2 separate regions of the Homo sapiens genome follow, and region 1 is linked to region 2. Evidence: fine-mapped QTL for protein levels in blood plasma. A gene starts in region 2. The other region holds a variant in brackets. All regions are shown on one strand. Distances are from middle to middle. Region 1 overlaps FCRL5 (Fc receptor like 5). Region 2 holds the start of FCRL5 (Fc receptor like 5).

What was found. A credible set is the group of variants that fine-mapping cannot tell apart. PIP is the posterior inclusion probability: the model's chance that the variant is causal. Protein levels are from antibody-based Olink assays in UK Biobank. Linkage for the fine-mapping came from a reference panel and not from the study's own genotypes, which makes the PIPs less certain.
Region 1: its variant is the best candidate, but not a certain one, in a credible set for the plasma level of the FCRL5 protein (UK Biobank, PIP 0.52).

What each region holds. Positions count from the first base shown.
Region 1 is chr1:157,536,099-157,544,098 of GRCh38, reverse strand. It overlaps FCRL5 (Fc receptor like 5), which reads left to right. Exons shown (of 17, transcript NM_031281.3): 6 at 962-1,240; 7 at 4,735-5,013. Among named protein-coding and RNA genes, the nearest start is that of FCRL5, 12 kb to the left of the region's middle. The variant C/T (reference allele first, on the strand shown) is at 3,498.
Region 2 is chr1:157,549,144-157,557,679 of GRCh38, reverse strand. It overlaps FCRL5 (Fc receptor like 5), which reads left to right and starts at 5,165. Exons shown (of 17, transcript NM_031281.3): 1 at 5,165-5,348; 2 at 8,100-8,120. The coding sequence starts at 5,318.

The DNA of each region.
Region 1 (8,000 bases), 13 kb after region 2:
AGCTTAGACCCAGGAAAATCCAAGAAAAGAAAGGTCTAATTTTTTTTCTTTCAATGCCATTAAATACAATTCTTTCTTTTCTCTCGCAGGGTTCTCTTCCCTGACATCATTTTTTTTTCTTCTAGGCCCATAGGGATAAGCCATGGGCTGTGGCATAGCTCTCTGACTCTGGTGTACAGAGGTATCTGTTGTCCCAATTAACATTACTTATTGACAATAACCAAAGTGAAAATTTCTGTAGGATACAAAGACAGGTTGCAACATTATAGTTACTCCAAATATGTGACTCTGGAGGTTTACCATTCCCTAGTTATGAGTACAAATATGCACCCCAGATTACATCACCTCCCTTACTAGTATACAGCACCATCCTTCCTTCAAAGCTATTATGGTAGTTACAGTGATGAGGGAAAAACAGCTTCTGTAGAGCCCTGTGTCATCCCTCCACTCATGGCAAACTCCGGGCTCACTTATAAGGAGGCAATGTGATCATCACCAGACTAGGAGTCAGGACACCAACTCTGGCCCTGGCTGGCCCTGAAAACAGCCTACACAGGCAGGTCTCCTAGTCTCTCCTTGACTCAGTTTTCTCACCTGTAAATAAAGAAGGTCAGTCTGGGCCAAGGGAGAGAGTAGGAGCAGAAGAAAAAGCTCTAGAAGACTATGCTAATCTTTAAGGAAAAACTAGCAATGGCAAATAAATCCCTGAGGCCAATGCAAGTGAAGGAGAAATAAACAGGGATAGGAAAGAAGACTCAGAATAATTGGGCACTTCAGGTGCAACATTCCATAGTCATAGGGCAGAAGGAAGGAGCAAGAAGCAGGTGCAGGTAAGGGTGTGTGGTTCTGATGGCAGCAAGTTAAGGGTGGAGACTGGAGACTGGGCATTTGCACTGGCCATGCCTTGTAATCTACAGTAAGAGGCAAAAGCAATTCTTGACTAATTTTTTCTCTTGCTCAGTCCCTGCATCTCATCCTGTCCTCACTCTCAGCCCTGAAAAGGCTCTGAATTTTGAGGGAACCAAGGTGACACTTCACTGTGAAACCCAGGAAGATTCTCTGCGCACTTTGTACAGGTTTTATCATGAGGGTGTCCCCCTGAGGCACAAGTCAGTCCGCTGTGAAAGGGGAGCATCCATCAGCTTCTCACTGACTACAGAGAATTCAGGGAACTACTACTGCACAGCTGACAATGGCCTTGGCGCCAAGCCCAGTAAGGCTGTGAGCCTCTCAGTCACTGGTAAGCCCTGCATTCCTGCCAATCACCCACCCCTGGCCAAGAGTCCTGCCTCACCCTGCCCTTCGGAAGTCAGCATATACCTTCCAGTATCCTCAGTTTCTTTCTTGGGAAAACCTAATGTCCTCCTCCACTCTCCGGCTCACTGAACCAGCTGTCTGCCTCTTGAGTCTCGTTGCATTGCAGTCTAGGTGCCCTTATACCCCTGCCTGATGGTGCAGTGGCTTTCTATCCCCTGGTTCCCAATTTCTGAGAAGCCAAGTGCTTTTCTTGTGCTTTCCACTTGTCCTGTGGCTCCCCAGATGACTGATTTTCATTCACTATATTATTCTCAGTAGACACAGACTCAATTTCCAGGAGCACAGAGGTATCTCCTGTTCTGTTAATATCAGACATTAATCAATAAACCAAAGGCAAAGACATGTAAGACACAAAGACAAGTCGCTGGATCATAGTTAACCCAGCATGTCCTTCTTGCTCAAGCCTTTTTTAGAGTTGATGGGCAGTAGGTAAGAAAGGCACGGGCAATGGTGGGCTGGGGGCAGGCCAGGAGATAGCTTCACCTCTACTTGCTTGGCTTAATGCCCTCAGAGCTATTCAGGTAGCTGCCAAATAGTTATGACATCAAAAAGGTTTCCTTTGAGCTTTGGATCTCAGTTTCGAACCATCCATGCATGGCTGAATGCCAGGTCCAATGTTGAAGGAGACAGTGTGATTTGGGTCTATACTGGTGACAGAGAGTCCAGTCTTGGTTGGTCCTGGAAGCGGCATCAGTTTCCTTTCCTGTAAAACAATAATACCAGCTTGGAAGACAAGCAAGAATCCAGTCCCTCCCACATGGATGTGTGAGATTATAAAGGAGAGGACCAGGGAACCCAGCGGGAGACATCAAATGACGTAGAAAGAGAACAGTGTCCCTGACATTCAGTGGCCCAAAGAAAGTGGAGACAGTGACATCATGATCAAACATGCTCAGAGATGTTTAAAGTCCTATTCAATGACTCACTTCTTCACCTAATAAATGCTGATTGCATATATTCCATGGACCAGACTGTACTGACATCTAAAGATGCATCTACGACTACACTAACCTGGCCTTCCCCACACAGTTCGTAGGGGCTAATAGCAAATGCAGTCAAGTAAGAGATTAAACATCAACCTGAGGATAGAAGCACCTGGTGGCTGCAGGAGCAGATGGAAAGGCATGCCAATCTGAGTTGGGAAGTGAGAAAAAATTTCTTGGAAGAACTCATGTGTGAGTTGAGACCTGAGGATGAGTGGGAACATTTCAGGAGAAGAGGATTGTGGTGAGGGAGGGAAGGCATGTTCCAGGAACTGGAGGGGCAGTCGGTTCTTGACGACTGCAGCACAGACTGAACAGTGGAGAAAGGTAGGATAAGGTTGGAGAGGAAGGTATGTTTAGACCATATTTAGAAGCAGAGTAAGGGCTTGGGCCATATTTTGCAGGGCAATCTGGGCTCCATGAATGCTTTAAATCTTGGGGAAAACCACTCCAGCAGCACAGTGAGAAATGAGTCATAGAGCAGCCAGTTTGGGGGGCAGCCAGGAGTAAAAGAGAGGGTTCATCAAGAGAGCGTCCAGTTGGAGCAAACCCCAGGCCAGTCCCAGTAGAGGAGTTGGGACTTGAGAAGGAAGGACTCCGGTTGAAGCAAGAGGCACTGTGAGAGTGTGCCCCACTGTCACCAAGGGCAGAATGTGTTCTAAGCAGAAGAGAGGGAGCTGGTTTGGATAAGGCAAAGCTAAGAGATGATGACAGATAAAAACTGAGTCACATCCAGTGAATTTAGCCACAAAGTACTCTTTGGCAGAAGACAGACTAGAATCAGAATACCTGGGTTTGACTGCTGCCTCTTCACTTACTAGCTGTGTGACTCACCCACTCGGGGCCTCAGCATGTTCATCTGTGAAAGAGGGGCAACAATAATACCCACCTCAATGAATTGCTTAGATGATTAAATTAGAGTCTCTCTATATATCGATATTTACAAATTACATCCAACAAATATACAAACACCAGAACTTACTTAAAGACACTATAGTGTCATTATAACAAACATCTATTTTATTATTTTTATCTTTATCATCATAATTATATTCAGAAACATGAAAATCCACTTTAGTAGATTGTTGGGGATTAAAACCAAGTTGTAATGGACAAAACATGCATATGAGATATGAGATAAAGAAGTAGAGATGTTAAAGGTAGGTCACTTCTTCCAGAAGACTGACTACAGAAAGG[C/T]GGAGAAACCGACTGTGAGGAACTGCAAATGCAAATAGGGTTGTTTTTCTATTGTCTGATGGTTTTTTTTTTTTTTAAACATGGAGAGGGTTAAACACATGCAAATGGTGTTTGCAAGAAGCCAGTAGAGGTAAAAACCTTTTATCTAGGACAGAGGCAGGTGAGCACAGGATGAAAAGACAGAAGAAAATCCCCCCAGGCAGGCCAAGGAGGGCTCCTCCATAGCCTCAGGGCCCAGGTCAGAGTGAGGAGCTGATGCAGGTAAGGGTGTGGTTCTGCTGGTGGAAAGACAAGGGAATTCTTTGAGAGCAACATCTCTGCACAACAGAGGCAGGTCCTACAACAAGGGGAGCTGGGAGAGGAGAAAAGACAAGAGGTCTGGTGGAAAAGGAAAAGACAGGGAATGACTAGGATGGAGGACAGGAGAGCTGGTGAGAGTAGCCTGGGAAGTGGCTGGGTCACCCTGCAGGTGGGTAGAGCCTGTGGACTGGAGACTGAACAACTGCACTGGTGAAACATTGAATCTGTGAACCAAAAACTATCTGAGACAGGTCTCAATCAATTTGGATAGTATATTTTGCCATGGCTAAAGACATGTGCCCCAGATTCAGCTCCCTGCCTTCTCCAAAGATGATTTTGAGGGTTTCAATATTTAAAGGTGAAAGGGAAGATATGGAGAAAAAGGAAGAAATTTTTTTAAAAGTATGTGTAAATAACAGACAAACAGTTGCATTCTTTTGAGTCTTTGATCAACCTTTAGCAGAATACACAATTTACATGTGAGAGAGGGGCAGAGGAATAGTCACTTCTGTCTTCCTTTAGCCCAGTGAGTCTGCATTTTTAAGTCAGGGAAATAATCAGATATGCATTTGTCTCCTGTAAGCAGCAATGACTTAAAGTTCTGTCTTTTGTCCTGCACTTGTGAAAATCAGCTATCAATTTACACTGTTAGGGTAAAACAGAACCATTTAAAACAGAACCATTTTAGGGTAAAGATCTTGGGGCCCACAAATAATATTTCAGTGGACAAATTTTGAGGGAGGTATGTAGCTTTTAGAAAAGTCTTTGAAGTTATCTTATTAAGGAATAAAATAAAAAGCAGGTTTGCCTGAAATAGTTCCCAGCTTGACTTTTCCCTTTGGCTTAGTGATTTGGGGTTCCCAAGATTTATTTTCCTTTTATGAAAACTACAGCAGGAGGCAGAAACAAATCTTGACTAATTTTTTCTCTCTCTCAGTTCCCGTGTCTCATCCTGTCCTCAACCTCAGCTCTCCTGAGGACCTGATTTTTGAGGGAGCCAAGGTGACACTTCACTGTGAAGCCCAGAGAGGTTCACTCCCCATCCTGTACCAGTTTCATCATGAGGGTGCTGCCCTGGAGCGTAGGTCGGCCAACTCTGCAGGAGGAGTGGCCATCAGCTTCTCTCTGACTGCAGAGCATTCAGGGAACTACTACTGCACAGCTGACAATGGCTTTGGCCCCCAGCGCAGTAAGGCGGTGAGCCTCTCCGTCACTGGTAAGCCCTGGGTTCCTGCCAATCACCCACCCCTGGCCAAGAGTCCTCTCTTACCCAACCCTTCAGAAGTCAGCGTGTACCTTCTAGTATCCTCTGTTTCTTTCTTGAAACAACCTAATATCCTCCTCCACTCTCTAGCTCACTGAACCAGCTGTCTGCCCCTTGAGCCTCATCCCATTGCAGTCTGGGTGCCTTCCCACCCCTGCCTAATGATGTAGCAGCTTTCTTTTCCCTGCTCCTCAAATTCTGAGCAGCCAATTGCTTTTCTTGTGCTCTCCACTTGTCCTGTAGATCTGCCAGATGCCTGATTTTTGTTTACTAAATTATTCTTAGTAGATATAGACTCAGACTCAGTTCTCAGGAGCACAGAAATGTCCCCTGTCCAGTTAACATCAGACATCAATGAATAACCAGATGCAAAGTCATGTAAGACACAAAGACAAGTCGCTGGATCACAGTTAACCCAACATGTCTCCCTTGCTCAAGCCTTTTTTAGGGTTGATTGGGCAGTAGGTAAGAAAGGCACAGACAGCAGTGGGCTGAGGGCAGGTCAGGAGACAGCTTAACCTCTACTTGCTTGGCTTAATGCCCTCACGGCTACTCAGGTAACTGTCAAATAGTTATGACATCAAAAAGGTTTCCTTTGAGCTTTGGATCTCAGTTTTGAACCATCCATGTGTGGCTAAATGGCCAGGTTCAATGTTGAAGGAGACAGTGTGATTTGGGCCTATACTGGAGACAGAGAGTCCAGTCTTGGTTGGTCCCGGAAGCGGCCTCAGTTTCCTTTCCTGTAAAACAATAATACCACCTTGGAAGACAAGCAAGAATCCAGTCCCTCCCACATGGATGTGTGTGATTATAAAGGAGAGGGCCAGGGAACCCAGGGGGAGTCATCAAATGATGTAGAAAAAGAACAGTACTCCTAACATTCAGAGGCCCAAGGAAAGTGGAGACAGGGACATCATGATCAAACACACTCAGAGATGTTTAAAGTCCTATTAAATGACCCACTTCTTCACCTACTAAATGCTGATTCTATATATACACCTAGATGTAGTGACATCTAAGGATGCATCTAAGACTACACTAACCTGGCCCTGCCCACACAGTTCACAGGGGCTAATAGCAAATGCAGTCAAGTAATAGAGAAAACATCAACCTAAGTTTAGAAGTACCTGGTGGCTGCAGGAGCAGATGAAAGGCATGCCAATCTGAGTTGGAAAGTGAGAAAACAATTCTTGGAATTTGAGATGATATCGGGGGAAATTCACCCCCAATATTTTACATAGGTTCTTTTCTATTTTCCCTAAGTGTCAGCTGGTCTCAGAAATAAAGGGACAGAGTACAAAAGAGAACAATTTTAAAGCTGGGTGTCCGGGGGCGACATCACATGTCGGCAGGTTCCATGATGCCCCTTAAGCCATAAAACCAGCAAGTTTTTATTAGTGATTTTCAAAAGTGGAGGGAGTGTACTAATAGGGTGTGGCTCACAGAGATCACATGCTTCACAAAGTAATAAAATATCACAAGGCAAATGGAGGCAGGGTGAGCTCACAGGACCACAGGACCGGGGCGAAATTAAAATTGCTAATGAAGCTTCGGGCACGCATTGTCATTGATAACATCTTATCAGGAGACAGGGTTTTGAGAGCAGACAACCAGTCTGACCAAAATTTATTAGGCAGGAATTTCCTCGTCCTAATAAGCCTGGGAGCACTACAGGAGACCAGAGCTTATTTCATCCCTCAGCAACGATCATAAAAGACAGCCATCCCCAAAGCGGCCATTTCAGAGGCCTCCCCTTAGGGACATATTCTCTTTCTCAGGGATGTTCCTTGCTGAGAAAAAGAATTCAGTGATATCTCTCCTATTTGATTTAGAAAGAAGAAAAATATGACTCTGTTCCACCCAGCTCACAGGCAGCCAGAGTTTAAGGTTATCTCCCTTGTTCCCTGAACATTGCTGTTATCCTGTTCTTTTTTCAAGGTGCCCAGATTTCATATTGTTTAAACAATTTGTGCAGTTAACACAATTATCACAGGGTCCTGAGGTGACATTCATCCTCAGTTTACAAAAATGATGGGATTAAGAGATTAAAGTAAAGACAGGCATAGGAAATCACAAGGGTATTGACTGTGGAAGTGATAAGTGTCCATGAAATCTTCACAATTTATGTTCAGAGATTGCAGTAAAGACAGGCATAAGAAATTATAAAAGTATTAATTTGGGGAACTAATAAATGTCCATGAAATCTTCAAAATTTATGTTCTTCTGCCATGGCTTCAGTTGGTCCCTCCATTCGGGGTCCCTGACTTCCCGCAACAAGATGAGACCTGATGGAGAAGAGGATTGTGGTGAGGGAGGGAGGACACTTTCAAGGAACTGGAGAGTGGTCAGTTCTTGATGACTGAACCATAGACAGAACAGTGGAGAACCACAAGATAAGGTTGGGGAAGACAACATCATTAGAACCTACTTAGAAGCAGAGTAAGGGCTTGGGCCATATTCTGCAGGGCAATCTGGGCTCCATGAAGGTTTTAAATGTTGGGGAAAACCACTCCAGCAGTACAGTGGGGATCAGGTCATAGAGCAACCTGTTTGAGGAGCAGCCAGGCGTGAAGGAGGGAGCCCAACAAGGGAGTGTCCAGTTGGACAGAACCCCCAGTCTAGTCCCAGTAGAGGAAATGGGACATGAGAAGGAAGGACTCTGGCCAAGGGAAAAGGCACTCACTGTGAGAGTGTGCCCCACTGTCACCAAGGGTAGAACATGTTCTAAGCAGATGATAGTGAGCCAGTTTGGATAAGGCAAAGCTAAGAGATGATGAAAGATAAAAACTGAGTCATGGCCAGGAGAGGTGGCTCATGCCTGTAATTCCAGCACTTTGGGAGGCTGAGGCAGGTGGATCACCTGAGGTCAGGAGTTTGAGACCAGCCTGGCCAACATAGTGAAATCCTGTGTCTACTAAAAATACAAAAATTAGCCAGGT
Region 2 (8,536 bases):
GAGTGTGTCAAATTATCAGGAAGAGGTAACAATTCTAAATGTGTAAGCGCTTCATAAAATAACTTCAAAATATAAAACAAAAAAAGACAGAAATAAAAAGGAAGTTGACAAATTCACCATGATAATGGAAAACCCTAACATAATTCTCTTGGTAACTTATAGAATATTAGAAAAAATAGTAAGACCATAGGATATTTGAATAACACAATATAGAATATAAAATTATGTAATTCACAGAAATGAAATGCTGCACCAATATTTGCAAATATACATTGTTTTAAAGAAAACATGGAAAATTTACAAAACGTGACTATGTACTAGCCCATAAAGCAAATTTCAACATATTTCAAAAGACTGAAATCACAAAATATGTTCTCAGACCACAGTGGAATTAAACTAGAGATTAATATCAACAAAAATGAAAATCTCTATTAGGAAAAGAAACAATACACTTCAAAACAACCCATTGGCCAGAAGGAACACCCTAATGGAAATTAATAATATTCTTAACAAAATGATCATAGAGATATGACATATCAAAACTTACACATTGCAGTCACACTTAGACAAAACTGTATAGCATATTGGAAAATAAAAGATTAAAAAATCAAAGACCTAAGTATCCCTGTAAGAAGTTTTTAAAAAGCAAGTTAACTTTTAAAAGGTAAAATGAAGTAAATATTAAAGAAAAGAGGAGAAATTAATGAAATAGAAAATGAACATACAATACAGAAAAATCAACAAAGCCAAAAGGTTCTTTGAAAAGGCTAATTCAATTGATGATTCCCTCTAGAGACTGATCAAGAATAAAAGAATGACTAAGAGAAGACAGTTATCAATATTATGAGTGAAAAAATAAAAAACATTACTACAGATCTCAAATATATTAAAAAATAAATGAGGACATTGTAAATAATGTTGTGCCAATAGACTTGGAAATATTGATAAGCAAATTCCTAAAAATATACAACATATCAAAACTGGCACAAGAAGAAATAAAGTATCTGAATAATCTCATATCAGTTTTAAAAATCAAATCTGTAATTTGCCCTCCTCCAGAGAAAGTTCCAAGCCTAAGTACTTTTTTTTAATTATTATTATACTTTAAGTTTTAGGGTACATGTGCACATTGTGCGGGTTAGTTACATATGTATACATGTGCCATGCTGGTGCTCTGCACCCACTAACTCGTCATCTAGCATTAGGTATATCTCCCAATGCTATCCCTCCCCCCTCCCCCCACCCCACAACAGTCCCCAGAGTGTGATGTTCCCCTTCCTGTGTCCATGTGTTCTCATTGTTCAATTCCCACCTATGAGTGAGAATATGTGGTGTTTGGTTTTTTGTTCTTGCCATAGTTTACTGAGAATGATGATTTCCAATTTCATCCGTGTCCCTACAAAGGACATGAACTCATTTTTTATGGCTGCATAGTATTCCATGGTGTACACGTGCCACATTTTCTTAATCCAGTCTATCATTGTTGGACATTTGGGTTGGTTCCAAGTCTTTGCTATTGTGAATAATGCCGCAGTAAACATACGTGTGCATGTGCCTTTATAGCAGCATGATTTATAGTCCTTTGGGTATATACCCAGTAATGGGATGGCTGGGTCAAATGGTATTTCTAGTTCCAGATTCCTGAGGAATCGCCACACTGACTTCCACAATGGTTGAACTAGTTTACACTCCCACCAACAGTGTAAAAGTGTTCCTATTTCTCCACATCCTCTCCAGCACGTGTTGTTTCCTGACTTTTTAATGATTGCCATTCTAACTGGTGTGAGATGATATCTCATTGTGGTTTTGATTTGCATTTCTCTGATGGCCAGTGATGGTGAGCATTTTTTCATAAGCCTAAGTAAGTACCTTTACCAGTAAAATCTTCCAAACATTTAAGGAAGAAATAACATCAGTCGTACACAAACTCTTCACGAAAATAGAAAAAGAAGGAGCTTGCTTATGAGACCAATATAATTTTGTTACTAAAATTCATCAAGAAAGAAAATTGGTCCATCTTCCTCATGAACACAAATGCTAAAAAGCACAGCAAATTTATAAGTCAAATTCAAGAATATATAAAAAAGATAACACATCATGGCCAAGTTGGAATGCACAGTTGATTTTACATTTATAATCATCCATGTAATTCATCATATTAACAATAAAAGTAAATAATCATATGATCATATTAATAGAGGCAATAAAGGTATTTACTGAAACAGCATCCATTATTTAGGAAAAAAGGAAAATTTCTTAGCAAATTAGAAATATAAGGAAAGGTATTTAATCTGATACATAGTATTCACCAAAAAAAATTACAGAAAATATTATATTTAATATTGAAATATTAAGAGCTTTTTCTGTGAGACTAAGACAGGACACCTGATATTACCACTTCTCTTTAGTATCATGTTTGAGTTCCTAGTCAGTGCAATAAGTGAGAGAAAAGGAAGTTTAAGTATTAAAAATAATGAATAAAACTATCATTATATGATTGTGTTTGCATGAAATCTAAAATAACCTAAAGATAAACTATTAAAATTAATAAGTAAATTCCGCAATTTTAGTAGATATTAAAAGGTCAGTAAGGCCGGGCATGGTGGCTCACGCTTGTAATCCTAGCACTTTTGGAGGCCAAGGCGGGCAGATAACTTGAGGTCAGGAGTTTGAGACCAGCCTGGCCAACATGGTGAAACCTCATCTCTACTAAAAATACAAAAATTAGCTGGGCATGGTGGCAGACACCTATAATCCCAGCTACTTGGGACGCTAAGGCAGGAGAATCGCTTGAACCTGGGAGGTGGAGGTTGCAATGAGCCAAGATCGCACCAGTGCACTCCAGCCTGGGGGACAAGAGCAAAACTCTGTCTCAAAAAAATAAAAATAATGGTCAGTAAAACAAAAAAGTATTATATTTCTATATACCAATATACATTTAGAAAAAAATCTAATGATGTCACTTACAATATCATAAAAAACATATCAATAACCTAAGGATAAACCTACCAAAAGATATACTTTCCAGAGGCAAAGCTATAGAAAATTACTGAAAGAATGTCAAGTTAACCTAAATAAATGAGGGGATATTGTATGTTTATGGATTGGGAGACTAAATCTTTTCTAATTTATACAAATTAACTTATAAATCCAATGCAATCCCAGTTATTAAAAATCTACTAGGCTTTTGGGGAGAGAGGGGACAGGAATTGACAAGGTGATTTTTAAATGTATAGAAAAATTCAAAAAGCCAAAAATAGCCATAACAATTTTGAAGAAGAACAGCATTTTATGACTTAAACTATCAGTTAATAAGAGTTATTATAAAGCCACAATAATTAGAAGAGTGTGGTATTGGCATGAGGATAGACAAAATAGACTAATGGACAAGAAAGGAGTTTCCAAAAATAGACCTACATGGCTTTTTGTTTTATAACAAAGGTGAAATTGCACTGTACTGTGGAAAAAATCAACTTTCAATAAATAGGGCAGGATAAATTATCTGTATTTAAGTTAAAAGTGAATATAAACACTCAAACTGTACACAAAAATCAATTGCAATGCTCTTATAAATATAAAATAAATGGTAAAAAATAAAGTTTCTAGAAGATAACCTGGGAGAGTATCTTTATGATCTTGGAGTAGACTAACTTTCTTAGAAGGGATGCAAAAATCTCTAACCACAAAGGAGAAGACTGATAAACTGGACTATGTCAAAGTTAGAATGGTTGTTCATCAAAAGGCACTATCAATGAGCAAAGAAGCAAGCCACAGATTGAAGGAAGACATTTGCAATACATATATCCAACAAAAGGTTTATATTCAGGGTTTAAAATAACTACAAAACAGGAAAAGAAAGACTGAAAGTTAAGAGAAAAATGAGGAAATATTTGAACAGAGATTGCACATAAAAAGGATATCTACATCACCAATTAGACTATGAAAAAATGCTCATTCTCAAATTCACCAGAGACATACAAATTAAAACCACATTGAGATAATTCTAGCAGAACGGCCAGATTTTACTAGATGACAATACCAATATCAGCAAGAATTTTAGAACAATGATAACTCTCATACATTGGTTGGTGGGTGTGGTGGGAATTGGCACAACCACTTTGGAAAATAATTTGGTAATACTTCCTAAACTGAATATATGCATACCTTATGAGCCAGGACTTCCACTCCCAGATATATACCCAACAGAATTATGTGCGCATATGCCCCAATAAATGTATACAAGAATGTTCATAGCAGCACTATTTGTTTTAGCACCAAAAGTAGGTAAAGATTCTGTGTTCCCTTTGAAGTTCTCCTCTTAATCTCTATTCACCCCTGTAACCCCTGTATGGTTTTCTTGCCTCAGGGTGCAGTGGGTCAGATGTGACATAATATACCTAAGGTGATGTGCATTTGTAGATATAAAATTAAATGCCCCCTTAGGAAGACCAAGGTATGGGCCCAGAGAGAAAGGGTGAGAAAATATTTGAAAGAAAGAAACTGGCACTCCTCGTGGCAGCTAATGTCTTAGGAACCTCTGTTGACCAGTATACCAGGATGGAAACTTGACTTTTAGAAAATCATAAGAGCTATACATTCACCTGGTAATTTTTTAAAAAATCAAACGGTACAGAAATACATAAAATAAATTGTGTTCTTCCCACCTATTGCTCCTCAAACATAATCAATATTTTTGTGTGTACTTTCCAGGAAAAGAAGAAAGTATACTTAAAAGAGTTGATGTACACATATATCCTATTTTTTATATTTACCCAATGGGATAATACTACAAAACCAATCTATATCTCACTTTTATTCTCTTCACATCAAACAAGGTGGTCTTCCCTTCTTGGCATGTTCAGATTTACCTTATTCTTTAATGATTGCTTGTCACCATACGGATGAATCAGAATATTCTTAAACAGTCCCCATATCATGGTTTTTTGTTTTGTTTCCAGTGTTTAGGCAATAATGAATGCTACAATAAACGTTCTTATAGTACTCTCTTCAGATACTTCCTTCAGGGTAATTTCCCAATAGCAAAAATGTAGGGTCAAGGGTATTTGATTTTTTAAAACCTTAACTTTTTTTTTTCTTTGATCATCGGGTAGGAAACTGTGATTAGCAGCTGAAGACGGGTACTCCCACTTCCTTTTTTCAATTCACTAATGCATTCTGCTCTTTTTGAGAGCACAGCTTCTCAGATGTGCTCCTTGGAGCTGGTGTGCAGTGTCCTGACTGTAAGATCAAGTCCAAACCTGTTTTGGAATTGAGGAAACTTCTCTTTTGATCTCAGCCCTTGGTGGTCCAGGTCTTCATGCTGCTGTGGGTGATATTACTGGTCCTGGGTGAGTAAAAGGGCTCACCATGGGCCCTGGGTGGGATCGGGACAGCTTCTCTCTCCACCGCAGGCCTGGTCCTTTCTTGGGGCTCAGCCCCTGCTGAGAGACTCTCTCCTACATTAGGAGACTGTATTTTTGAACTTTACTCTGTAGCTCAGGGCTTTCTCTTGAGGCTGAAGAAAATGGCCACAGCTGGAAGGAATTTTCAATCTTACAGAGTAGGAAACCACAATAACCACAACAATTAAAATTTCATTTATTTTTTTCTTTAAAAAGTACTTCTTAAAGTCCAGAGAATGTTTCATGTTTGTTTGTTCATATTGTCTTACTCATAGAAGAGCCCACTCTCCTCTCTGCAGAGGAGATGTATTTATTCCTTGTATGACAAGGCCAGATCCTGGTCCCCAGCATAAGAGGCAAGGTTTCTAACGGGAAAGACAGGTCTTTCTCTTGTACATAATTGCAAACCACTGCAGCAATTGGCTGATTAAGAACATGGGGTGGAGGAGGTCGCAGAGGCGTAGGTGGACAAAGCAAGGATAAATCTAAAGCATATGACTTTCTCTTTGTCCCTGTGGGTGTACGTAAGTCTCTATCAACTCATATGTGCGAACTGGTTGATTTTTACTAAAGGTTAAATATTATAATTAAATATGTTTATTTATTTGTTCAGCAAATGTGTTTAGTAATATCTATGCACAGGTGCTGAGCAATTAGAGTCCATAGGAGACACTACGTCTATGTTCTGGAAAGTCATGACATAGAAGGGCTCCCAGCAAGGCCAATGTACTTTCAAGCAGCTATGCAACAAGCTCCCAGTTAAATAATTGTCCAGGCAAAGTTACCAATGAATGCTGTAGGCAGATAATAAACTGTATTCAAAATAGCTAGTAAAGACTTCATGAAACTTAGAGGTGAGTAGGAGCTAGAGGAGCAGAAATGGAGCAGGCGTGATATAAGAAAAGAGGACCTCACAGTTGGAAGGTGCATGGACTATAATTCCTGAAGTAGGAATACATCTCAGTGTGGCCCCACACAATGTGGGTAATGGCCAGGTCCTGAGCATGAGAGGGCAAAGTTTATAACATGGGCTCTGGGGTCAAACAGGATCTAGGTTCAAACTTCATCTTGCCACCTACTGGCTACCAGATTCCTGGTCTACAAAATGCAGTTAATCCTAGTGCTTACCTCACAGGATTATTGACATGGTTATATGAAATAACCTACGTAAATGCAGACCATATAGAAACCACTCACAAAAATATTAGCTTCATTTAAAACAATGCAAAGATGAAGGAAGCCAAAATATTCAGGTGAATGGTGAATAATTTGTTGTTCTCAGTAAAACACTTAAGTTTGGATAAGTCTCCAATAGCCTCATGTGGACAGGGATGATTTGTCTCTCACACACTCCTGGATTTCTATTGCCTTGCTCTGGAGTATGATTGGCATTCCAAAAATCTGTTGAATAAATAAATCAACCCATATGCAGAATACCTACTCAATTGATAAACCTGCCAGTTTTGTGTCCTCTCTCTCTTCATTACCCATTTCTCAAATCTCTATCCTTCTATTCCTATATTATTAACCTAGTTCTTTAATTAATTCATTATACAACACAAATATATTTAGTGAACATTAAAGGAATATCTTTTATATGCCATTCACCGTTATAGGTCCTGGAGGATATATGGTGAACATAAGGAAAGTCCTAGGTCTCATAGAGCTTGCATTATAGAGAAGGGAAAATAAACAAGCAGATAATGAAGATAATTTGGATAAATACTCTGACAAAAATTACACATTACCATCTCTTGGGCTGAGCATCAGGTCTAAATAATCTGAGCATCAGTTGATTGTTTAAAAATTAGGCATGATGATAATGAGCCCTTGGATTCAATGATCTCATGAAAAGAGTATAGCCTGGAGTCTGGTGCCCAAGGGAGGCTTAATTCATGTCCATTTCCTTGCCCTGCCTTCTAATCAGTCTCCCTGCTTCATATTGTCCCATTAAATTCTGTCCACTGACAGAGTGCTCCATCAAAGTCTGAAATTCTAACCTTGTCAATCTCCTCCTTGAAACCATTCCATGACTCCTTATCACTTTTATAATAAAATTAGAACCACTTACTCAGGCCCTGCATGCTTCTCTGGTCTTATTTCCCCCAACACTCCCAGTTCCTGAGCACCAATGTCATTTCTCCACTTCTGTGCCCTTTCTACCTTGAAAGGTAGAAATCGCCTCTTACCACACACAAATGCTAACATCCACCTGCAGACTCATGTTCTCACTCACAGTTTTGTGAAGTATCATCTCCTTCAGGTACCTTCAAGGATCCACCCATCCTGTTCAACACATGTACACACAAACACACACTCTACACACACACATATATCCTACACACTGGGCTAGTGGCCCTTCTGCCCCCAACATACCCCATGTGTATTTCTGTTATTGCACTTACACCCTGTGTTATATTATTTTAAATCGTGTTTCTGTTTTTCCACTAGTCAACTTCTTGATGGCAGATACCATTTTTAAAATTCATTGTAGAAGTCCAAATACCATGCCATATATATATGTATATATATGTATATTTATGTGTATATATATACATTTGATGAATAATTATTAGAGTTTTTAAATGAATTTTTTAAAGGGACAAGTAATACATGCATGGGTAAAAAAGGGAATTATCTTCTTAAAACAAAATAATCATGGTTCTGTGCTCATCTCTGGCTCTTATTTTTTTGCAGCTCCTGTCAGTGGACAGTTTGGTGAGTTCTCCTGTCTTTGGCTCTTCAGCGTCTCTGGTTAAGAGTGTCTCTTCCTAATAAATAGAAAACATTTGTGATGGCTGCCTGAGATCTCCAATATCTCCTGTTTTCTTTCCTTTTTTTTATTATACTTTAAGTTTTAGGGTACATGTGCACAACGTGCAGGTTTGTTATATATGTATACATGTGCCATGTTGGTGCGCTGCACCCACTAACTCGTCATTTAACATTAGGTATATCTCCTAATGCTATCCCTCCCCCCTCCCCCCACCCCACAACAGGCCCTGGAGTGTGATGTTCCCCTTCCTGTGTCCAAGTGTTCTCATTGTTCAATTCCCACCTATGAGTGAGAACATGCGGTGTTTGGTTTTTTGTCCTTGCAATAGTTTGCTGAGAATGACAGTTTCCAGCTTCAT